Linked DNA regions of Homo sapiens: regions 1 and 2 are each linked to region 3. Evidence: fine-mapped QTL for protein levels in blood plasma. A gene starts in region 3. Each other region holds a variant in brackets. All regions are shown on one strand. Distances are from middle to middle.

What was found. PIP is the posterior inclusion probability: the model's chance that the variant is causal. Protein levels are from antibody-based Olink assays in UK Biobank. Linkage for the fine-mapping came from a reference panel and not from the study's own genotypes, which makes the PIPs less certain.
Region 1: its variant is fine-mapped to the plasma level of the CXCL11 protein (UK Biobank, PIP above 0.99).
Region 2: its variant is fine-mapped to the plasma level of the CXCL11 protein (UK Biobank, PIP 0.95).

What each region holds. Positions count from the first base shown.
Region 1 is chr4:75,885,621-75,893,905 of GRCh38, forward strand. It overlaps PPEF2 (protein phosphatase with EF-hand domain 2), which reads right to left. Exons shown (of 17, transcript NM_006239.3): 3 at 6,231-6,358; 4 at 6,028-6,085; 5 at 4,337-4,512; 6 at 2,594-2,708; 7 at 1,232-1,278. It overlaps LOC105377285 (a long non-coding RNA gene), which reads left to right. Exons shown (of 2, transcript XR_938895.3): 2 at 2,623-2,844. Among named protein-coding and RNA genes, the nearest start is that of PPEF2, 13 kb to the right of the region's middle. RefSeq lists a silencer at 356-650. The variant C/T (reference allele first, on the strand shown) is at 3,578.
Region 2 is chr4:76,063,585-76,071,869 of GRCh38, forward strand. It overlaps a transcript of ART3 not described here. Among named protein-coding and RNA genes, the nearest start is that of ART3, 7.0 kb to the right of the region's middle. The variant GCAAA/G (reference allele first, on the strand shown) is at 3,863.
Region 3 is chr4:76,031,707-76,039,988 of GRCh38, forward strand. CXCL11 (C-X-C motif chemokine ligand 11) reads right to left here and starts at 4,364. Exons shown (of 4, transcript NM_005409.5): 1 at 4,221-4,364; 2 at 3,510-3,636; 3 at 3,341-3,413; 4 at 1,976-3,110. The coding sequence starts at 4,281. The coding sequence ends at 3,087. It also overlaps a transcript of ART3 not described here and the pseudogene RPL36P8.

The DNA of each region.
Region 1 (8,285 bases), 150 kb before region 3:
TTGGGAGCTGAGGTGAGTGGATCACTTGAGCTCAGGGGTTCAAGACCAGCCTGGCCAACATGGCCAAACCCCGTCTCTATAAAAAATATAAAAAATTAGTCCATCGTAGGCCAGGCGCGGTGGCTCACACCGGTAATCCCAGCACTTTGGGAGGCTGAGGCAGGTGGATCATGAGGTCAGGAGTTCGAGACCAGCCCGGCCAAGATGGTGAAACCCTGTCTCTACTAAAAATACAAAAATTAGCCGGGCGTGGTGGTGCACGCCTGTAGTCCCAGCTACTTGGGAGGCCGAGGCAGGAGAATCACTTGAACCTGGGACGCGGAGGTTGCAGTGAGCCGAGATCGTGCCATTGCATTCCAGCCTCGGCGAGAAGAGCGAAACTCTGTCTTAAAAAAAAAAAAATTAGGCCATTATGAGACAGGTTAGTTTTACCCTACTGATGATCTGTTGTTGCCATGGTAATCCTGCTCAGTACCAACCCGCAGGTTCAGACATTCGGTGTATGTGCTTGGCTAAGGAGCCAATGGGACAAAGCTACCCTCTGTGGGATTTTGACTGAATGCCTCTAAGTCAGAATCCCGCCCAGGCTGAACCACAGGGCAGCGCTGCAGGGCCTCAGTTGGCCTCGGATAGCCAGTCTCCCAATGGCCTGGGATAGCCAGTCTCCTGCCATCCCCGCCGGCCCGCAGTTCGGCTCAGCAAGCGCGCAGGTACCCGAGGCCGGTGCGGAGAGTCCCTCCTCCTGGGAAACCGGGTGCGGCCGGAAAGGCGGCCGCCCCTCACCCGTCATGCAACGGCACGTTCGTGGGGAACCTGACATTAAACTGTTCGTAGATGACCTGCTTCTGGGTCAGGATTTCGCACTGAGCAGAGCAGCTCCCTCGCTGTGATCTACTGAAAGTCAGCCCTCGACACAAGGGTTTGAAAAAGAAAAAGTGAAAAAAATAAAGAAATTAGGGCATGTTGGCATGCACTAGTGGTCCCAGCTACTCGGGAGGCTGAGGTGGGAGGATTGCTTGAACCTGGGAGGCAGAGGTTGCAGTGAGCCTAGATCGCACCACTGCACTCCAGCCTAGGTGGCAGATTGAGACCCCCATCTCAAAAAAATAAAAATAAATAATAATATTTTAAAACTTCAAGTAATATTTAAGCATTTGTTCAATTGATACTGAATTTGAGCTTCTAAATTAAGCTTCAGAGCAAGAAAGCAACTTAATTTGAACATTCATACCTTATAAAATATAAAGATTAAGTCATCCAATTGGCCATGTAAGTCTCCTAACAAAGATAGAAAAAGAATATCAATTCTGATTGTTCCTTACCAGTGCTTCTGATTTTTATTATAAGAAAGAAAATACCCAGAAGAATCTGACAGAAAAAACCCTACAAAGTTTTCCATATGTAAGATAAGGATAAATATTAATTTCTCCTTATTGCAGAGATAGTATTGAAAGCAGAAGGCATAATATTTTTTCTGCCGGATTATTATAAATAGTAAATGAGCTACATTTTTATTGAAGCAAAGATGCGATAGAATAGTGCAAGGTTGCAAACCTAGATGAGAACTGGAGAGATTTTGCCCACGTTAAACTAGAAAGCAGCTACTCACTTATGAGCCAGTGTTAAAAGATTTTTCAGGAGACTTTTAAAGCAAAATCTAGATCATAATATAAAATCCTCCAAATTTCCAATGTTGAAATACCATTTTTAAAAGTTTATGGGCCGGGCGGGTGGCTCACGCCTGTAATCCCAGCACTTTGGGAGGCTGAGACGGGCGGATCACGAGGTCAGGAGATAAAGACCATCCCGCCTAACACGGTGAAACCCCATCTCTACTAAAAATACAAAAAATTAGCCGGGCGTGGTGGCGGGCGCCTGTAGTCCCAGCTACTCGGGAGGCTGAGGCAGGAGAATCGTGTGAACCCGGGAGGCGGAGCTTGCAGTGAGCCGAGATTGCACCACTGCCCTCCAGCCTGGGCGACAGAGCGGGACTGTGTCTCAAAAAAAAAAAAAAAAAAAACTTTATGAACATTGCAAGGCAGGCAAGACCATCTGCAGGCTGCAGGTGACCCTAGCAGGGCCAGTTACAATCCCTCCTGCACTGGAGCCTCCACTAGGTTAAGGTGTGGGATGTCTGTCTACAGTGGATGTTAAAAATCACTGGAAACATAAGATGGGGAAAACAGTCATTAACAGGACTTCTTTCCAGGAGAGGAATGTGTGTGGATGGGAGGAATAATTTGCTAGTCATCGGGGCTTTCTCAAGTACCATTAAATAAACCATCTTCTAACAAGGAGGGTCTGGTTATTTGCAGAGATTTTGTTTTGAATGAAGAACATGAGTTTGAGTCAGTAGGAATTGCTTGGGAAAATAAAGCAGAGGCTGGGCCCTGAGGTCCATGATCCCCTTCGCTGCACCACCACCTCTTTTTTAGGTAAATGTGGAGTGAATATGCAAATTGTGGACCTGAAGGGGTTAAATTTGGCTTATCATCACATCTCCCTGCAGCCCGCCACTCCTCTTGCATCCCCACACAGGTAGAGCATTCTTCTTTGTGTGCAGCATGGAAAGCCGTTTCTGACCAGCTCTTACCACACACTGTGATCTCCTCACTGTAACAGGTTGAGACCCGGTTGATGTTTGGCAGCTGTACCAGATGTTTCTTGGTTTCATACAAAAGGTTCAAGACGTAGCGAGCATGGAGCTGCTACTGGGAGGAAGAGGAGGGAAGGAAGAAAACAACACTGATATTCGTGAGGGAAAATGGTCCTTACCTTTACTGCTTAACAACCCCCATCACCTAAGACCCCAAAAGTAACCCCAGTAAACTGCTCCTGGGACTATGCACGGATTCTTTCTTTATCACTCAACTTCTGCCCTTGTTTCTGCTTCTCATCATTCCCACTTGCCCCCCCTGCAAATATTGAGCTACTTTTCTCTTTCCTTTCTACTCTATTAAATGCTTCCTTGCCTTTAGCATGGGAAGACCATGTGATTGTTTCAGTAAAGTATGACTAAGTGCAGGTGTGTTGATGGTACTTAGTGATCCTGTCATTACTGGAATATATCAGCTCAGCTCCTCCTGCAATGAGTTACATTCATGTGGAAGAGGGGAAGGATTGAATTCTGATATAGAGCCAGAAGCTGACTATCTCGCTACCTCTACCCTACCATCAGAGTTCCAAGCCACTGTCATCTTTCGCTTGGACGATTGCAGTAGTCTCTTGACTGGTCACCCTACTTTGGCCCTTGCCGCCTACACTGTCTTAACACAGCAACCAGAATGATTATTTTAAAAAACAAGTCAGGGCTGGGTATGATGGCTCACGCCTGTAATCCCAGCACTTTGGGAGGCTGAGGTAGGCAGATCATGAGGTCAGGAGATCGAGACCATCCTGGCTAACATGGTGAAACTCCATCTCTACTAAAAATATAAAAAAATTAGCCGGGTGTGGTGGCGGGTGCCTGCAGTGGCAGTTACTCAGGAGGGTGAGGCAGGAGAGTCGCTTGAACCCAGGAAGCGGATGTTGCAGTGAGCCGAGATCGCGCCACTGTACTCCAGCCTGGATGACAGAG[C/T]GAGACTCTGTCTCAAAAAAACAAAACAAAAAAACAAGTCAGATTATGTCATTCCTATGTCTGCTGTCTCCCTGTCTCTTTTGGAAGAATAAAAGTCCACCCCCTCACCTCCATTACTCTTCCCCTGGCTCCCTCTTCTCCAGCCACAGTGGCCTCCCGAGGTTCGTGAACAGTCCAGGCAAGTTTCTGCTTCAGGGCTTTTCCATGTGTTCCTCCCTCTACCTGGAACGCTCTTTCTCCGGCGCATTCCTCACCACCTTAGATCTTTGCTCAGAAATCACCTTCCCAGACAACTCTATAAAATTGCTATTTCTTCCATCCATAACTTAGTTTATTCTTTTCCATAGCTCTCATCGCCTTCTAATATACTGCATAATTGTCTTATTTATTGTTATTTATTGTTCATTGTCTGCCTCCCCGATGGAATGCCAGCCCCATAAGGGCAGAGATTTTATCTGTTTTGTTCACTGCTGTATCCTCAGTGCCCAGAGCAATGTGGGGCACACAGCAGTGCTCAGTAGTTATGTGTGGGATGAATGAACAATGAGAGATTATGTGATTAGGAAGAAAAGCTGTCAATCATCAGAACTGGCTGATTGACTGCAAGGTCCTGGCTAAGCACAGCAGGGGTAGAATCTCTCTAGTGGACACATGACATGAACACCCTAAATCTGGGGCCATTCTTTCTGTGCTGGGTTTCGTCTCCCTTCACACATTTCATGGAGTTGGTAGTGACCCAGGTTCCCCAGGTGAGCTTACTTGTTTCAGTCTGAATGCTTCTACCAGGGCAGTTGCATGGTCAGGCAGGAGTGGGAAGGAGAGGCGTGGCCCCGTGTAACTGTCGGGTACCTCTATGGATTCATAGTCACTGCATTTCTTCATCTCGGAGTCCTGGGCGAATCTGTCCTCAGTGAATATGCGGGTCAGGAAGTCCCCTAGTCCAGATAGAAAAGGTGGATCAGCTTATGATCATCTGATCATGCAGTCTGTGGGCACTATAGAATAGTCCTTGGCTGGGCACGGTGGCTCTCTAATCCCAGAAATTTGCGGGGCCAAGGAGGGAGGATTGCTTGAGCCCAGGAGTTTGAGAACAGCCTAGGCAACATAGGGAAACCTTGCCTCTACAAAAAAAATTTAAAAATTTAGCCAGCCATGGTGTCACACACCTGTAGTTCCAGCTACTCAAGAGGCTGAGATGGGAGGATCACATAAGCCTGGGATGCAGAGGTTTCAATGAGCAGAGATGATACTACTGCACTCCAGCCTGAACGATAGAGTGAGACCCTGTCTCAAAAAAAAAAAAAAAAAGTCCTTCCCTGGACTATTGAAGCAGGACATGGTTAATCTGGCTTCAGCTTCAGCTCCAGCACAGAAGAGGAAAAAGGAAGGAGAAAGTGACAACAGTCTAGGATGGGCAGGAGGAAAAAGTCATGCTTTCTACTTTTATTCTAAAAGATCAAGATTTGTCAGACTTAGAGAGTACAGAAATTTAGGGACCTGGATTTGCAAGCAGAAGGAAAGGGGAAAGCCAGTGTGGAAAAATCACAGGTATTTATGTTGCATTTAGTGAGCGCAACAGGTGCATCAGACCTGGCAGTGCCTTCCAGCAGCTTCCAGCTGCCAGCATTGGCATCTCCAGACTGAGGACTTATTTCCTGGATCCGGATGGCAGGCCAGAAATGCTATGGAATTAACAACCTCCTGGCTTGGCTCAGTGGTTCACGCTTGTAATGCCAGCACTTTGGGAGGCCGAGGCAGGTGGATCGCTTGAGGCCAGGAGTTCAAGACCAGCCTGGTTAACATGGTGAAAGCCCATCTCTACTAAACATATAAAAAATCAGCCAGGTGTGTTGGTGCACACCTGTAATCCCAGCTACTTGGGTATCTGAGGTTCAATCACTTGAACCCGGGAGGTAGAGGTTGCAGTGAGCCAAGATCATGCCACTGCACTCCAGCCTGGGTCACAGAACGAGACTCTGTCTCAAAAAAAAAAAAGAAAAGAAAAGAAAAGAAAAAGCCTCCTTCCTATACTTCTCTCCCACCTCCCCAGCCGCTTTCAACCAATGACTCCTGGAGTTGACACAGAAAAACTCCAGTTCCCTTTGCCTGCAGGGGGTATAATTCTGAGGCTTGCGTTTTGCACTGTTTCCTAGGCACACTGAGTTGCTGGACTGGCTGCGATTCCTTTCCTGAATCCCTTCCCCACTCCCTCCCACCCCCAGGGTTTCTTGAACTTAATAAATGAATTCCTTGCGTCCAAACTCTTGTCTCCAGGTGTGTGTTCAGGAGAACCTGGCATAAAACCCCAGTCTGCCATTTACTCCTCAGCCCCTTGCTTATTCCCTGGCTGTCACCAGATTCACGGTTTCACTCCCTGTGCATCCCCCACCTCACCGTGTAATCTATGGCCTTGCGACAGGAGGACATGACATGTGGCAGTTCATACTCACTGTCGTTGTGGCTGCTGGGGATGAAGTGATCCATGAGATAGCTGAAGAAGTCATGGAGCTGCAGAAGAACCCAAGGAGACGTGGCTTTAGAGGTGAGCGAAAAGAGAACCCACAAGTAGTCCAGTTGGCCTCACTTTAGGAGCACCCGAGCCCTGCTGCCCAAGGGAGAGCAGGAGGCGGCTCCGTCCCACATCTCATTGTACCTTGACTTGGTCTTGCTGCCCAGCATATTCTATAGACTGGAAGATGCTCCAGGTGCAACGCCGCCTCATCTCCAGGCGGGCCACGTAGCGCCGGTACCATCTCTGGATCAGGGCTGCTGCCTTGAAGGCTATGACACCGATGGAGAAGCAAGCCTGTGAGCTCGGACTCCCTGGGCCAGGGGTTTGGGGGTAGGGAGAGGAAGCTGCTCAGCCCTCTCCCACTGTATATGTGAGGACAAGATGGAGCAGAAGCACTACCCATTGACGCCCATAGGAAGTATTTCCCTTTCTGCTGGCAATAGTGCTTTTCCCCATTTCCTGCCCCTCCCCTTCATTCCTGCCTGATGGTTATACTCATATCACTGTAGGTTGATTAGAATTCCCATGTATTGATGAAAACATTTCTGTATAGGGATGAAAAGGTTGGACTGCCAGGATTCCGAGAAGGAGATGTAAACTCATGAGATTGCAAGGATGCAGCATCCCTGACAGGTTATAATGCGGGGGTGGGGTGGACATTTTGATATTGTGACAATAGACTGGATGTCAGGACACCTGGGATCTAGACCTAGAACTGCCCTGACAAGCTCTGTGGTTTCAGACAAGTCATCTGGGGCCTCAATGTCCTCATCTGGAAAAGGGGCGGGGCCAGATGAAGACTAGGAAAAGCAAACAATAAACGAATACTCAAATGAATGCATCATACGATGTCAGGGGGTAGCAACTGTGTCCCAGCTCCCATGCTTGCCATCCCCAGTTCCATGATATCCCTACAGGCTTTAAGCACCCCCGTCATAAGATAGACAGCACTGACCATGCAGTCCCCCACATGGCCACTGGGCCTCTCATTTTTGCCAGGACCTGTGCTAGGTGACCAGGTAGGGCAGGTTAGGGTGTGGAGTTTCATTCTTTATATAAGGTTTAGGACCTGTGTGGTCAAGTATTGTTGCCAGAGAAGGGAACAGCTGTCCACATAACTAGATTCTTTTTAAGCTCCAAGGCTTAGATACACTGCTGGTGATGAATGGACTATTTGTGGATAAAGCTGGATTAGAAATCCTGCAGGCTGGATTAGAAATCCTGCAGGCTGACTCAGGTCAACCTCATAAAGAGTAGACAGATTGATTTAATATGTTTCGTTTGCATTAGACAGATAATAGAATTCTTGCTGATTTCCCTAAGAGGAAAGATGATGGTGACATGGGAAAAGAGAAGCTGGGAGGAACTTAAACAAAGATAAATTTGATTTCCTATGAAAAAAATTCATACTACTAGTATTTCTCAAAGGCACTCACTAAATAGTAAGCGATGAGGTTGAACCCCACTGACTGACTTCTGTAAAACCATGTTCAGAATAGTGAATGAGGCTGGGCGTGGTGGCTCACACCTATAATCCTAACACTTTGGGAGGCTGAGGCTGGTGGATCACCTGAGGTGAGGAGTTCAAGACCAGCCTGGCCAATATGGTGAAACCTCATCTCTACTAAAAATACAAAAATTAGCTGGGCATGGTGGCAGGCATCTGTAATCCCAGCTACTTGGGAGCCTGAGGTAGGAGAATCATTTGAACCTGGGAGGCAGAGGTTGCAGTGAGCCGAGATCGTACCACTGCACTTTAGCCTGGGCTAGAGACTCTGACACACACACACACACACACACTCACACACAAAAGAGAATAGTGAATGAAAGGTCCAGGGCTGGTGCTACAGATTCTTTAGAGATTCCTGGTAAACATGCAGGTTGCTACACCTCACCCTGGACCTGTAACATCAGAATCTCTACCGCTGGAATCCAGGAAGGAATCTGAAGGTTTAACAAGCTCCATACATAATTCATACTTGTGCTAAAGTTTAAGGACCACTGAAGAAGATCATGGACATCAATGTTGTCTGCTAACACCTTGCCCTGAGCATTCTATGGCCAGTGCTGCCAATGATGAGACATACGTATTACATCCTCAGTCTTGCTTTGGCTACTCAGGCAGCAGAAGTGGGCAACACCTTTCATTCTCCCTCTTTTTTTCTTCCTCCCGGTTGACTATCTGGTAGGGTGTGG
Region 2 (8,285 bases), 32 kb after region 3:
ATAAGGTCTCTCCGGTTGTGCCATATATATTCCTTTGATGAGAATTTCCCAATAGGTATTTAAGTAGTCATGTATTTATATATCATTATTTGACAGAGACTCGGAGAACATAAAAACAAGAAAGCTAAAAGTAATATAAAGCCTGCACTTGAAAATTAGTTTAAAACAATGATAGTGAAAAATAGAATAATTTTGGCACTAAACATTGAATTTATACAAATCTTTTAGAGTTTCATGTATTATACAAAGTTCTGAGGAAAAATTATTTTGAACCTAGAATTATATACTAGCCAACTGTTCATCAGATTCACATTTCAAAAATGAAAGCACTGAAAATGTTTATCTTCCATGCATCCTTTTTAAGGAAATAATTTCAGAATATATTCCTACAAAACAAAGATAAATATGAAGCAAAAAGCTGTAGATGCAGTAGCATGAGACAAAAAATAAATTAAAAAAATAAAACCACTGTAGAGTACAAGAAATGGAAAAAGTACCCAGGGATTCAATTGAAAGATTTTCTAGTCTCCTAGTTGTTGGCCTGGAGAGCAGTTTGTCCAGGTTAGAACTGGTCTTCAAGAATAAGAACAAAATGGATTCCAAGCAATAGAATTGGAAATAGAAGCACATTAGGTACACGATGGAGACAAATACTACTTTTCCCAACAACCACCATGATCACCACTACCATCACCACCAAAAAAGGCACTCAGAAACTAAAGGAAAAATAAAAAATTTTAGTGATCTAAATACAAAAGAGACAAAAGTGAGGCATGATTTTAAGGGATTAGTGGAGTATGGGAAAGGAATATTCATTTGATCTTGACATAAAAATGTTTTGTTTTGAGTGTGAATAGTGATCATGACATTGAAACAGCAGAGATGGAAATAAAATCCTAACTTGTGTCTTGTCTTTATACTAAAGAATATATAGCTGGTTGCAATAAACTTGCAGTAAACTATACTTTTGATTTTTAATTTTAGAATAGACCTTTACTTAAAGCATGGCTACAGAACAAAAAGCAAATGTTATTACATTTTGACAACATAAAGATAAAAGAACTACTGATGGAAGCTGGGAGGTGAAAGGCAGAAAGGAGGTGAAGGGAAGGGTAACAGTGCTAACGTCCTCTTATTACAAAATGAGTACCAAAAAGAGAATATTGAAAGTGGATGCTTTAAAATATACTAACAATATTGCTTCAATTATCAGTGTTGGTAGAAAGATGGGAGTTGGAATATTGAGTAAATTTTTTTTTTTTTTTGAGACAGGGTCTCACTCTGTCACCCAGGCTGGAGTGCGGTGGCAAGATCATGGGTCACAGCAACCTCCACCTTCCAGGTTCAAGCGATTCTCCTGCCTCAGCGTCCTGAGTAGCTGGGATTACAGGCACCTGCCACCATGCCTGGCTAATTTTTGTATTTTTAGTAGAGACGAGGTTTCACCATGTTGGCCAGGCTGGTCTCGAACTCCTGAGCTCAAGTGATCTGCCCACCTTGGCCTCCCAAAGTGCTGGGATCACAGGCGTGAGTAATGGTAGCCATAGTGGTGGTGAGTTCAATCAAGGAGGAAGTGTTTGCAAAGCAAAAATTGTGAGGTGCACTTCTTAACACCACAAAGTTCAAAAACAAACAATTACAAATATGGCGAGCTCACTGAGTGCTTTTGTACTGAATCATTTAATCTTGTGCATTTGTATTATTATTGTATACTTTTGGAATTTTTATTATACAATAATTGGTGTTCATTCATTCATTTCCAAACCTGTTCACTTAACATGCCGATCTTTGGGATGTGGGAGGAAACCAGAGTCCCTGGAGAAACCCACACAGACATGGGGAGAATGTACAAACTCCACATAGACAGTAGTCCTGGCTGAGAATCAGGTTTTTTTCTCATTAATGGTATAATGAAATGGCCTTATTCAAGGACCTCCTGAACCTCCCACACTCTGATATAACCCTCCAACACACACACACACACACACACACACTCGTTGAAATCATTACCATAGAGACTCCTTGTCCTTGATAAGAATGTGTCTCTCTCACTGAAATAGGGGGAAAGAAAGTTGAGAATTAAAGCCTAGAGGCCTAAAATCTACCAATAGGATTTGTCCACAAATATAATATTACATTATAATAATATATACATATATGAATATGTTGTATTATATAACATCAATATATTAAATATAATAAAGCAATCTAATCATTATATATTGAATGGTGTAGGGATAATACGCATTATTTTGAAAATACTAAATAGATATATGTTTCATTCCCTTTATAAAGTCTGTCTGTACTCTGTAACCTTTAAGATTATCCTTAGTAGTCTGAAGGAAGGAAAAGGTTGATAATGCCAGAATAAGAAGTACATAGGATAAAGGTGAAAGAAATAGCACATAGGAAGCAATGCCTAACAGGAATTGGGAGTGGAAGACCTGATTCTAGAACAGAGAAAAGGAGAAAAGAGAATTCAGACTCCTGTGGCTCCTCTGGACTGAAACCCTAGAAAGCATTGATGTAGGGGTTTAGAAACACCCTAGTAATTTTCAGGGAATCTTTTAGCAGCAGAGATTTTTTCTTTTCATACTTCTCCTTGTGTTATAGGATCTTTGGGGTGTTGATTTTCTTCCCCTGTAAACCTCTGTTGCCAGTGGGGCCTTTGCCCCATTTCTTGTCCTGCGTCCAGGAAGAATGAGGTATGCAGACAAATGAAGGGTGAGGAAGAAGAAGAGGAGATTTATTTAGTGCTGTAACTGCTCAGAAGGAGACCCACAGTGGGTAGCTCCCCTCTGTGGGCAGGCAGGTCGTCTGTCAAGTGTTCAGCTCTCAACAGAGAGGAGGCCCTGGAGATGGCAGCTTCTCTCTGCTCGCTGGTCATCCTGAGGTCTGCTTTTCTCTGCAGGCAGGTCATTCGGCAGTCTCTGCAGATCTCTGAAGCTATTAGCAGAGAGCGTAATTAGCAGAGAGGGTAGCTCCTCTCTGCTGCTGGTCATCCCATCTTCTGCTCAGCTCTGGCTGAGCCCGGCTATTTATGGACCTCAGAGGGGAGGAAGTGCACACTGGTTGGCCCATGGGTGGTCATGGGCAGGCCTGGAAAAGGCACCAGTGTCCACTCCAGTCAGTGGAACTGGCAGCCTGGGCCCCAGCCTTCAGGCCCTCCCTGACCTGACAGAAGGACCTTACTGGAGACCCACCCCCTTCCACGTGGGACTCTGCCTCCTACTACTCATGACGCCCAGGCTCAGCCTGACTTTGCTCCAAGATTGGAGCAGGAGCCAACAGCAGGGAGAAGCCAAGCAGTGGGAGCAGGCACTTTTAAGCTTGTGAGGGCAGGGGGGCCTTCCCAGGCCCCCAAGAGTGCAGGGATACCTGAGTCTGCTGCCATAGTTTGGGCAGTTGCACCCCTGCCCAGGAGGGCAGGGCTCCTGCCTGCTCTGTGGAACAGGCAGCCCTGGCCACACCTTCCTGCCACAGCTGGGATGATGGCAGGCCAACTGGAGTGGCTGCCACCATCACTTGGGCAAACTGGAGAATTTTTAAGGTCTCTTAGAAAAAGCATTATATTTAACAAGTTGAACATAACAAAGTAGCAGAATGAGTTGGGAAAGGACAAAAGATTCTCTCCAGTTTTCTAAAATCAAAGTTGTCATGATAGAATTCCTAGGTTTCCCTTTGGGCTTAGGGAAGGTAACTGGGGTACAAACCAGTTTATGATCTTCTTTAAGAAGATGCCCGCCAAGGGCAAAGGAGTGCATCTTGAGTTTGTGGGAGGCCCACCGAACAGGGTGAAAGGACATAGAAATTGTTTGTCTTTAGAATGCCCAATGCCAGGAGGCTACGATGGGGGAATTTA[GCAAA/G]CATTTTCCCAAAATCTATAAAAAAACACTAAATTACTGAGCTAGCAATTAAATGTCACCATTGCTGGAGACCAGACTAACAGCTAGAACTAACAGAGAACAGAGAACAAACTACAATTTTTCCCAGTGTCAGTATGTCATAGTGTGAGGAATCATGTGCAAAAAGGAATATGTATTTCTCTTTATTGGAAATCAACGTAGTTCACAAACCCCCATGTAAAACACTAATCTTGTCAGTTAAAATTTGGTAACAGTAAAAACACTTAATCTTGTCAATTAAAATTTAGTCACTTCAAAGTTGAAAGTTTTCTTTGAATAAATATTTAAATTCAGAGTTCTTTTTCTTCCTAAGAGCAGTGGCCTGCCATTGAAGAAATATCTTGTTCTGGTGCTGACCTCTAGCGGTCATTGGCCTTCCCCGAGGTATCTGATCCTGCTTGGTCTTTGGCTGATAGAAATTTGCACTCACCACTGTAATGTTGTGCCTTGGCATCCAGTCTCTAAAATATAAATACCTTGTATTTATCTTACCACAACCCTAGGCTCCTTTGACTCACCTAGTTCTCTTTCCTCATCATTCATGGGCCATTGCATTACAGATACTTTACTGTGGTAGTCTTCAAATTGGGATACATATATATCTGGGGGTACACAAATTTCAGGGAGTATGTAGGCAAGATAGTTTTTGTTGTTGTTTGTTAAAATTTGCCTTATTTAGGTATGACTTATGTAAATAAAATTCACAAATTTGAAGTGTACAGTTCTGTGACTTTTGACAAATGTATATCATCATGTAACATCTACTACAATCATGATATAAAACATTTCATCACCCAAAAAATGTGTTCCCTCATGCCCATATTGTGGCATGTATTAATAGTTTATTCTTTTTCAAAGCATGTTTATTGAGATACAATTCACATACAATACCATTCATTAAGGAAGACTGGATAAAGAAAATGTGGTACATATATACCATGTAATACTATGCAGCCATAAAAAAGAATGAGATTATGTCCTCTACAGGAACATGGATGAAGCTAGAGGCCATTATCCTTAGCAAACTCATGCGGGAACAGAAAACCAAATATCACATGTTACCACTTGTAAGTGGAAGCCAAATCATGAGAACACATGGACACAAAGGGGGGACCAACAGGCAGTGGGGCCTACTTGAGGGTGGAGGGTGGGAAGGGGAAGAGGATAGAGGATAAAAAAAAAAATAACTGTTGTGTACTAGGCTTAGTACTTGGGTGATGAAGTAATGGGTACAACAAACCCCTCTGACACGAGTTTACCTATATAACAAACCTACACATGTACCCTTGAGCCTAAAATAAAAGTTTAAAAGAAAAAAAATTCATTCATGTAAAGTATTCACTTGTATGGGTTTTGTTTTTGTTTTTGTTTTTAAGAAATGAGGTCTCACTGTGTTGCCCCAGTGGCATTGAACTCCTAGGCTCAAGTGATCCTCCTTTAGCTACTCCAACCACTGTGCATGGCTTAAATAGTTTTTATTGTGTGTACAGATTTGTGCAACCATCACTGCAATCATTTTTAGAACTACTGATACATGCAACAACATTGATAGATTTCATAGTGTTATGCTAAGAAGTTAGTCATAAAAAATTACATACTGACTGTATGATAATAGTTAACATGTCATGCTGGGAAAGGCAAAACTGGTGACAGGAAGAAGATCAGTGACTTCCAGAGCCTTGGGTGAAGGGAGGAGATTGACTACAAAGGACATGTGGTGACTTTTTTGGGGAGATGAAATGTTTTCATTACTCTAAAAAGAAGCCTAGTACGCATTAACAGTCTTCCTCATTTCCCCATTATACGTCCAGCCCTAAAAAAATCAATAATCTACTTTCTGTCTGTATAGATCTGTCTACTCTGGACATTTCATGTAAATGTATCAGTACTTAATTCCTTTTTTTTTTTTTTTTTTTTTGAGACACAGTCTGTCTCTATCACCCAGGCTGGAGTGCGGTGGCACTATCTCAGCTCACTGCAACCTTCACCTTCCGGGTTCAAGCGATTTTCCTGCCTCAGACTCCCTAATGGCTGGGATTACAGGCACGCGCCACCACACTTGGCTAATTTTTGTATTTTTAGTAGATACACGGTTTCACCATGTTAGCCAGGCCAGTCTCGAACTCCTGATCTCAAGTGATCCGCCTGCCTTGGCCTCCCAAAGTCCTGGGATTACAGGCATGAGCCACTGCATCCGGCCTTAATTCCTTTTTATTGTGGAATAATATTCCAGTGTGTGGGTATATCACAGTTTGTATATCCATTTACTAGTTGGTGGACATTTGGACTGAAATCTAGACCACTTTTTGACTATTATATTTATAGATATATTTATATTTATATTATATTATAGATAATACTGCTATGAACATTTGTGCACAAGTGATTGTGTGCACATATAACATACCCAAGATGTAGGCCTCAGAGTGGAATTTCTGGATCTTGGGCATATACCCAAGATATATGCCTAGGAGTGGGGAAATTTCTGGATCATGTAGTAACCCTATGTTTAACATTTTGAGGACATTTGTTCCTTTTTATTGCTGAGTGTTATTTCATTTGTTTATCCATTTACCAGTTGATGACATTTGGGTTGTTTCTACCTTTTGACTATTATGAATCAACCTGCTGTGAACATTTGACAGGTGTGAACATACACTTTAATAATTTCTTTTAAGTATAATGAATTCCTGTTCTTTTAAGTATAATGAATTCCTGTAAGTAGAATTACGGGGTCATATGGTAAATATATAAGTTTAACTTTATGAAAACTGCCAAATTGTTTAAAAAATAGCTGTATCATCTTGCATTCCCATCAGTAATGTATGAAAGTTTCAGTAGCTCCATATTCTCATCAACATTTTATGTTGTTAGTCTTTAATTTTAGCCATTCTAGTGGATGTATAGTGGTTTTAATTTGCATTTACCTGATGCTAATAATGTTGAACATCGTTTTCTACTTGTTTGTCATTTATATATCTTCCTTTGTGAAGTGTCAGTTCAGATCTTTTGCCCGTAATCATTCAATAAAATAATCATTTTATCCTTGCTTGAAAAAGCTACAGTCTTTATTCAATCCAATTTAGCTTAGTCTGCATCTACCATGGAACTGAACGTAGCTGGAGAAAAATACAACCATCTTAAGTGATTTCATTTTAAATTCAGGTAGCCCCTTAATGCAGCCCAGCAATCATAAGGCATTCACTCTTCTCCTTTTCTAGATGACTATTTCATTCTTTCTCCAATTTCTTCAAGTCTCTGTCACTTAAACCATCATCTTTTGTTACTACTTTTTTGAGAAAATTGAAGCAAGTAGAAAAGAATTTTTATTGCAACCCACTTCTTTCCAGCATCTGCCAATATACTGTGCCTTTCCTCCTGTTCATATTAGATGAACCTCTCCTGCTCTTATCTAAGGCCACCTCATCTGCTTGTATGCTATGTCTCATCCCCTTTTGCCTACTCAAGAAGATTGACCCAATCATTCTACCCTCTCTTTGCTATATTATTAGTTTTTTCCTCTATCTACTAGATCATATCCAACATGCTGGTTTTTTTCTGTCTTTAAAAATATTTCTGACCAAGCACAGTGGCTCATGCCTATAATCTCAGCACTTTGGAAGGCCAAGGCAGGCGGATCATTTGAGGCCAAGAATTCAAGACCAGCCTGGCCAACATGGTGAAACCCCGTCTCTAGTAAAAATACAAAAATTAGCCAGGCTTGGTAGTGGGCAGCTACTCTGGAATCTGAGGCAGGAGAATCGCTTGAACTGGGGAGGCAGAGGCTGCAGTGAGCCGAGATAGGGAGGCGGAGGCTGCAGTGAGCTGAGATCGTGCCACTGCACTCCAGCCTGTGTGACAGAGCGAGACTCCATCTCAAAAAAAAAAAAAAAATTCTTGGACTCTCTTCTTTACCTTTTCCCTGGTCCCACCATCAAGCTATACTGCCTCATTCCTTTTATGTCCTTTATAGAAAAACTCCTTGAAAGAGTTGAAGATATTAACCATCTCCAATGTCTCCAATTCCTCTTTTCATTCTTTCTTAGGCCATTCTAACCAGGCTTTCATCTCCACTCTTCTATCAGACCTGCTCTTAAACAAAACTTTCAATATCCTCCACATTGCTAAATCCAATGGTCAGTTCTCAGTCCTCATCTTACTTGACCTATCAGAAGCTTTTAACACATTTGATCTTTCCTTTCTTTTGTAAGTATTTTCTTCACTTGAGTTCCAGGATACTTTTTCCACACACGGTCTTCTCCATGTCAATCAATGACAACTCCATCCTTCCAGCTATTCAAGCTAAAAATCTTGGAACTATTCTTTACTCCCCTCTTTTTCTTGCAGCCCACATCTAGTTTGTCAGTACATCCTATTGCC
Region 3 (8,282 bases):
TAAATTCCTTTTCCCTTAGTTTATATTGCCATTCAATAGGGTCTGATATGCACCAGAAACTGTACTGTTGGCCTGGGCTACAGCAGCTTTCTTTTACACTTATGAGAGAGCAGATATTAGGCACAGGAATAATTCATTAATTACAATTGCAGTAAGTAGTATGATGGAAAAATAGAGAGTGTTATGGAAATAAATAAATAGGACACCTAATCTAGTTAAAGCTGAAGTGGTGGTTTCAAAGGCTTCTTGGAGAAAAAGTCATTTAAGCTGAGACCTAAGCAATTAGTAGGCATTAGCTTAGTGAAGAAATGGGCAGAGAGAATAGTATGTGCAAAGGTACCAAGGTGGGGAGGATCTTGGCTCAAATATGTTAATTATTAATATTTCATATATTTATTTTGCTATGAAGAACTTTAGGTGTATGTTTTCTTCTCAGTAATAATGTACTGGCCTATAATATTTAATATACTTCTTACAAATACCAATTTATCATGCAGCCTTAACTCTGTGAATTTTTTTTTTTTTTGAGGCAGGCTTTTGCCCAGGCTGGAGTGCAGTGGTGTGATCACAGCTGACTGCAGCCTCAACCTCCCAGACCCAAGTGATCCATCCACCTCAGCTTCCCAAGTAGCTGAGGTTACAGGCATGTGCCACCATACCCAGCTAATTTTCCTATTTTTTATAGAGATGAATTTTCGCTATGTTGCCCAAGCTAGTCTTGAACTCCTGGGCTTAAGCCATTCACCTATGTTGGTCTCCCAAAGTGCTCAGATTATAGGTGTGAGCCACCATGCCCAGCTGACTATGTGAATTTTTATTTTTAAAGAGACTTAAAAAAAAAATCACTGTAAGTAGTCAAAGATTAGATTCAAGTCTTTTTTTTTTTTTTTTTTTTGAGGTGCAGTTTCACTCTTGTTGCCCAAGCTGGAATGCAATGGCATGATCTCAGCTCACTGCAACCTCTGCCTCCCGGGTTCAAGCGATTCTCCTGCCTCAGCTTCCTGAGTAGCTGGGATTACAGGCACGTGCCAGCAGCCTCGGCTAATTTTTTGCATTTTAAGTAGAAATGGGGTTTCACCATGTTAGCCATGCTGGTCTTGAACTCCTGACCTCAGGTGATCCGCCCGCTTCGGCCTCCCAAAGTGCTGGGATTACAGATGTGAGCCATCGCACCCAGCCAGATTCAGGTCTTAAAACTATCCAGGGAATTTATATGGAAGTCCCATCTCTATATAGATATTTATATAGATTTATATAACAATTTATTATAAATCTATATTGTATCTATAACCTATATAATAATGCAATATAGATATATCTGATTATAATCCTATAATAAATATTTTTATTTTTCAAATGTATGGGTGCCTATATAGAGAGTACTGCTATCAGTCAAGGCTTTTGGTTACATGCAGAGAAACCAACTCTGGCTATCTTAAGGAGAAAAAGAATTTAGTTGGAGGTTGAAGAATCCACAGGACAATGGAGAATAAGTCTTGGAAAATGGACAAAGACCTAAGGGAACTAGGTGATAGGAAGGACTAGCCAGAGTCATGCTACAGGAACACACATTGGGAAGACACTACTGTAAGACTTTCATTGTTTCTCCTGCTGCTGCCAGGCTTGAAATAATTTTCTTACTAATAGTATCTTTGTGATGCCAGCTGGAGTTCAAAGTCTAGGGTAGAAACAGCATGGCTGAGTCCTTGTTGTGGCTACAGGAGAGGATCTCCTGTCTTTGGCTTCTCTCTTTTGGCCTCCCACCAACACTCACATAAGGGATTTTCTCCAAGTAAGAAGGGGGTTTGGACTATCAAGACCCCCCAAGGCCGACAAAAGAAACAACTGTCTTTCCCACCTACCCATTAAAATATATTTCTAAACAGTTTTTCATGATGACGGATAGGTGTATGTTTCTGAAATATAAGGCAAAATTGTTAAAGGCATCTCAAATGTCCTGGAAAGTATATAGATCTTTTTTTAAAAAAGAAAGGTTGTGGTAGTTTATTAGAGAAAAAAATGACTTTGATTCTTTAAACTAGTCTTGAGTATACCTAAATTTTACAGTATATAGGCATGAACAAAGAAATTGATTAGATTATGTATTTTTCTAAGAGACAGAATTACAAAAAGTAAAAGTGATTGCTAGGTATACATTTGCTTATTTTTCAACATTTTTCTTTGGTAGACAAAAACATTTTGTATTTCAGATGTGTCCAAGATATTGCTATCATTTATACAAACGGATCAAAACAAAAAGTACAGTAAACACACATATCCTAATTGCTTCAAAACATCTCAATGAATAAAAGTTGAAAAACATCAAATTAAGACTGGTGCTACTAATTTGGTTATGAAATATGTGCACTTTTGCCAGTATCCCATAGCGTATAATTTTTTTCATAGTACATTTTATGAATTACATTTAATGAATTGGTTATAAAACAAACCAAATGATGCATAAGAATGTCTCCCTACATATTGATGTGCTACATGATGTTTGGGGAAAGAAGTGTGTATTTGCATGAAAAAATGTTTGAGGAATGTTTTACGACACATAGATGCTTTTGACTTATAAGGGCTTGACTCCAGTAATAATGTCAATGTCTCCACCGTAACCACAGATAGTAATATAGCATAAAGATCAATACAGACAGATGACTTCTAGAGACAGAAATGTTCTCATAGTCACAACAGAATAGTTGTAAGCATCAAATCTAGAAGGTTCTCTAGCCTAGAAATGCATGAATGTATAATGCAACAAGTAAGAACGTGAAAGCACTTTGTAAACTCCGATGGTAACCAGCCTTTCTTAAGGTAGCTTTTCCTAGAAATCCATTTAATTGTTGGACTCCTTTGGGCAGTGGAATTCTGATTGTCATTCATTCAGGAAGACTGTATTTCTGTTTTTGGTCCTTTCACCCACCTTTCATCCTTCACATAACTGTACAAAAGTTGAAAGTCACAAAACCATAGAAAAGTCTCAGTTTCCTACTGTAGAATTCTTGTCATTTCAGTAGTCACAGTTAAACTTGTTCTAGGTTTTTCAGATGCTCTTTTCCAGGACTTCATATGTTTTGATATTTTTAAAAATTCTTTCTTTCAACTTTCTGGAATAAGAAAACAAGAGTTTTATTTACTTGGGCTGTTCTTGTTTCCCCCAGGACATCTAAAAACATGTAGTAAGAAGGGGAAGCTGTTACAACCAAGGACCCCTTAACAGAATATTTCACACAGGATCATAGCAGAATCTTTCTGTAGTTGTCCACATTATTTTCTTTTTCAAAAGATCTGTCTTGGATAAAACAGATTATAACATGGGAGTAATTTGGTAACTTACTTTGATTATAAGCCTTGCTTGCTTCGATTTGGGATTTAGGCATCGTTGTCCTTTATTTTCTTTCAGGGTAATACTGTTAAAAGAACATACAAGAGTCTTAAAGTTTAGATGCAAATACATAAACAAAAAAGCCTGCACCATTGTCATCTTCAGCAAGTTCATTACTTACATCACTTCTATTTTGTCACAGTTGTTACTTGGGTACATTATGGAGGCTTTCTCAATATCTGCCACTTTCACTGCTTTTACCCCAGGGCCTATGCAAAGACAGCGTCCTCTTTTGAACATGGGGAAGCCTAGAATAGATCATAGCATTAGTTAGTAATGCATCTGATTGCAACAGATGGCTGTGGTTTATAGCTGGTGGTGAACGTGAGCAGAATTTTCATTAAGGGTAAAGATAGTAATTTGTCAAATAGCACTTAACACAACTGTTACTGGGAAAAGTTAAGTAAGATGTTGATTATTTTCTCATTAAATTAGTAAGCAAATCGCTAACAAATGGGAAGCATGAAGGAAGTTTATTGGAGGTGAAGCTTGTTTTGCCCCCTTGATTTTATCCTCAAATATTTTCCCAGGAAGCTTGTTAACATGATCGCTATATAAAATCTTCTTAACAGACATTTAAAACTGTTGCTAAAGGCTTTTGCCAGATATTCTAGCCAAATCAAAAATTCCATGAAGTTCATAATTTCTAGTTTCAATAATCATCTCTAGTATCTTAAACATGTCCACCATTTCTGTGCTAAAGCTGTAGTAACTTCTAATCTGTGAGATTAAATAAAACTTTATCATGTCTTTTAGGATAAAAGTGGAAGAAAAGACATTTGAAACATTAGAAAAGGAACTTATAGGTTGAGAAATAAAAATTACTGCATACCTTGAACAACTGTAGCACACAATATCACAGCCAAGGCTATAGCCATGCCCTTCACACTCATGTTTGTTTTTTGCTGTTGCTGCTGGTGCTGCTGCTGCTACTTCAGCTTTGCTGCTCTTCTTGGAAGGAGTAGAAATGCTGAACATGAAAGGAAATTGATAATTGGCATATATAGAGCATTTTATACACCAGCAATCCTTTTATGGCACAGGAATTTCCCTCTTTGAGTCATGCACCTTTCCTGCTTCCAAGAGTTTCTGTTTTGTTCTCTTCTAAATGTTACTGTCCCTTCCTATTTGCAGTAGTGTTGAAAGTGATAAGAATGTGAAAGCACTGTGAAAACCCAGATGGTAACCAGCCTTCTTAAGGTAGCTTTTCCTAGAAATCCATTTAATTGTCGGACTACTTTGGGCAGCGGAATTCTGATTGTCATTCATTCAGGAAGACTGTGTTTCTGTTTTTGGTCCTTTCACCCACCCTTCATCCTTCACATATCTATACAAAATAATATTCTGAAAAGCTTTTTTTTATTATCTCACTTTTGCTTTTCAGTCCAAACTCTTATAATAGATAAGGCCTATATTATTTGACACCAGATGACCTTTATTCAATTTCATATTTTTACCTGTAAATGAGTGCCTAAAGAAGTTTCCCTGTGTTTCTGTATTTATGTCCATATTGTTTTGCATTTTCAACAATTTTTACTTTATATATTTTATTTTGTTTTGCTTTATTTTATTTTTAAATTTAATTTAATTTTATTACTTTATTTTATATTTATTTTATTCTGCAAAGCTTTCATTATAGGCAGATGGCAGGGGGCTCAGTCCTTCTTGGCAGCTGCTTTCCTCATGGCAGCCAGGACGTTGCTCAGCTCCTCCTGCCTTCTCTTGGTGCAGATGTTTGTCCCTACCCTTTTCTTGATGAATTTGAGGGCCTGTTTGACCTTGGAGACCTTCAGTAACTCCATGCCACGCCACTCGTTAGGGGTGAAGCCACACACCTCTGGGATCATGTCCCACACAAATTTAGTGAGTTTGGTCAGGCGCCCACAGTGGCTGTGCCTGGGCTTGCTCACATTCTTGGTCACCTTGTGGCCCTTGTTGAGGCCCACAGCTATAGGGTAGTGCAGTGTCATGGCTGCTGCCCTCCAATGGTGGCCATGGTGGAAAGCTACTTTATATATATTTTAGCACTGTTACTTAGTACATGAAGTTGTATGAGTTGTATTAGGGATCATAAAAAAAAGTGATCCTCTTTGCTCATGTGATAGTTTTACCTCTGAGATTCTACTTTGATGTAATTCCTATTTTTTTGTCTTTATCTTTTCCTCTTAAGCTTCCTAAATCTTTGTTTTAAGTGTGTCACTTGTAGATGTTTAAGAAAATCATATCAAAGGAGCTTTCTAATGGGTAAGCTTAATAAAATATATTTACTGTATAACTGGTAATCTGTAATTTTTAAAATGCTTCCTTGCTGATTCTTTATGTTTTCTTTGATTTCTTTCTAACTTTAAATATATTTTATTTAACTTTTTGAAGCCATTTTTGTTTTTTTTAATGAGATGGGTCTCACTCTGTCACCATTCTGGAGTCGAGTGGCACAATCATAGCTCACTGCAGCCATGAACTCCAGGCCTCAAGCAATCCTCCTGCCTTGGTCTCCCAAAGTGCTAGGATTACTGGGATGAGCCACGGTGCTTGGCCTTCCTTAAGTAATTTGAAAGGAATACATTGTTTTACATTTTGATATTAATTCTTAAAATTCTTTAAAAAGATTTTTACCTGAATTTTTCTAATTATTTACATCAACCATCAATAATATTTTTTTAGCTCCTGTCTTTGTAACATGAGAAAATCACTGTAACTTTCTTTCAAGAATTTTCTCCTATTTCCTAGTTTTACCAATAAAAGTTGGTATAATCGGGGAATTTATAGCCAGTTTATTACTTTTAGATTATTATTTTATCTTATTCAACTTCTTTTTTTGAGAATTATCATTTGCATTTTATCTTGAAATTATATATTTATTTAGATATAATCCTGCATTTAAATTCTTTAACAACCATGACTAGTCTTTAAAACCTTTGAAAGTCTTTACAGTAGTCCCCCATTAAATGAGAAATTCTAGAAATAATTCATAAGTTTTAAATTGTGCACTTTTCTGAGTAGCATGATGAAATCTCACATCATCTTGCTCCATCACTTCATCCCATCACATAGACATTTTATCATTTCACAGCATCACTAGAAGAGTGAGTATAGTACAATAAGATATTTGAAGAGAGAGAGACTACACAGTCACTTAACTTTTATTACAGAATATTGTTGTAATTATTCTATATATTAATGTTGATGCTCTTACTGTGGCTAATTTATAAATCAAACTTTTTTATAGGTATATATGTACAGGAAAAAATACAATATATACAGGGCTCAGTACTATCTGCAGTTTCAGGCACTCATTGGGGGTCTTGGAACATATCCCCCAAGGATAAGGTGAGGGGGCTACTGTATTTTAATTAATTTCCAAGTAGCTGGAATATTCTTTCCTTCTTTTCCATTAATTCATTTAACATATGTAAAGAAAGACTAATTTTCCCTCAGGAATATGGGTAAAGTAAAAGGAATGTGTTCTTGGAGCTCATAAATCCTTATCTGTTATTATTTTTTAATGTTGCTTTTCATTTTCTCAGCATTAGAAACACAGTAGAGCATAGTTGTTAATAGGGAAGGCTCTAGAGTCAGCCTGTGTTCAAATCCACCCTTGATTATTTATTTATTTATTTATTTATTTATTTATTTATTTATCTTTGAGATGGATTCTTGCTCTGTAGCCCAGGCTGGAGTGCAGTGGTGTGATCTCGACTCACCACAGCCTCTGCCTCCTGGATTCAAGTGATTCGCCTGCCTCAGCCTCCCAAGTAGCTGGGATTACAGGTGCGTGCCTCCATGCCTGGCTAATTTTTATAGTTTTAGTAGAGATGGTGTTTAGCCATGTTGGCCAAGCTGGTCTTGAACTCCTAACCTCAGGTGATCCTGCCGCCTTGGCCTCCCAAAGTGCTGGGATTACAGGCGTGAGCCACTGTGCCCAGCCCACATTCAGTTATTTATGAACAAGTTACCTCAACTTTTTGAGGCTATTTTCTCATCTATAGACTGGGGATAATAATAGTACTTTTTTTTTTTTTTGAGATGGAGTCTCTCTGTGCCACCCAGGCTGGAGTGCAGTGGCATGATCTCGGCTTACTGCAACCTCCGCCTCCTGGGTTCAAGCGATTTTCTTGCCTCAGCCTCCCAAGTAGCTGGGATTACAGGCATGTGTTACCACGCCCAGCCAATTTTTGTATTTTTAGTAGAGATGGGGTTTTACCATGTTGGCCAGGCTGGTCTCAGACCCCTTTTTCATAGGGCTGTTATAAACTAGGTATTAAAAGAGGTAATGCATATTAATCATTTAGAAAAATATGTAGCACTCAAAATGTATTAACTGCTATTATTATTATCAGTGTCCTTTCCTGAATTGGCATACCACATCTAGCTTGTTTTCAGCTGTTTTTCAGCATTAACACAAACACAACCACTTAATAAAAGATGAGTTGACATTGTTATAGCATATAAAAATATTTTAAATTATAATAACCATGAATATAAAAATAGCATACTAATCATAAAAATCACTTACAGAAAGTGCATGAATGCAATAGCATAGTTCAAATAATATAGACAAACAATAGTGAATATTTCTGCTTACTAGCTAAAGTGTTGTCATATAGCTTTGGTGTAAGACAATTTCTTAAATAGGGATTCTTAATTTTTTTAAAAAGACCCTGGAAATTATTAAACATATTTTTACATTATACTATTTTAAATAGAAAATAGACATAATTCAAATTTACATAAAACAAGACTAAACTCTTCCTTTTGCCTTCATGTGTGAATTACTACTTAGCTGTGTAGAAAAACTGTGGATCACAATTTTCTCCTTCAGTACTCTGCTGGGAGTCTTGGAATGTATCCCCCAAGGATAACAAGGGGACTACTGTATTTTATTTTCTATTGT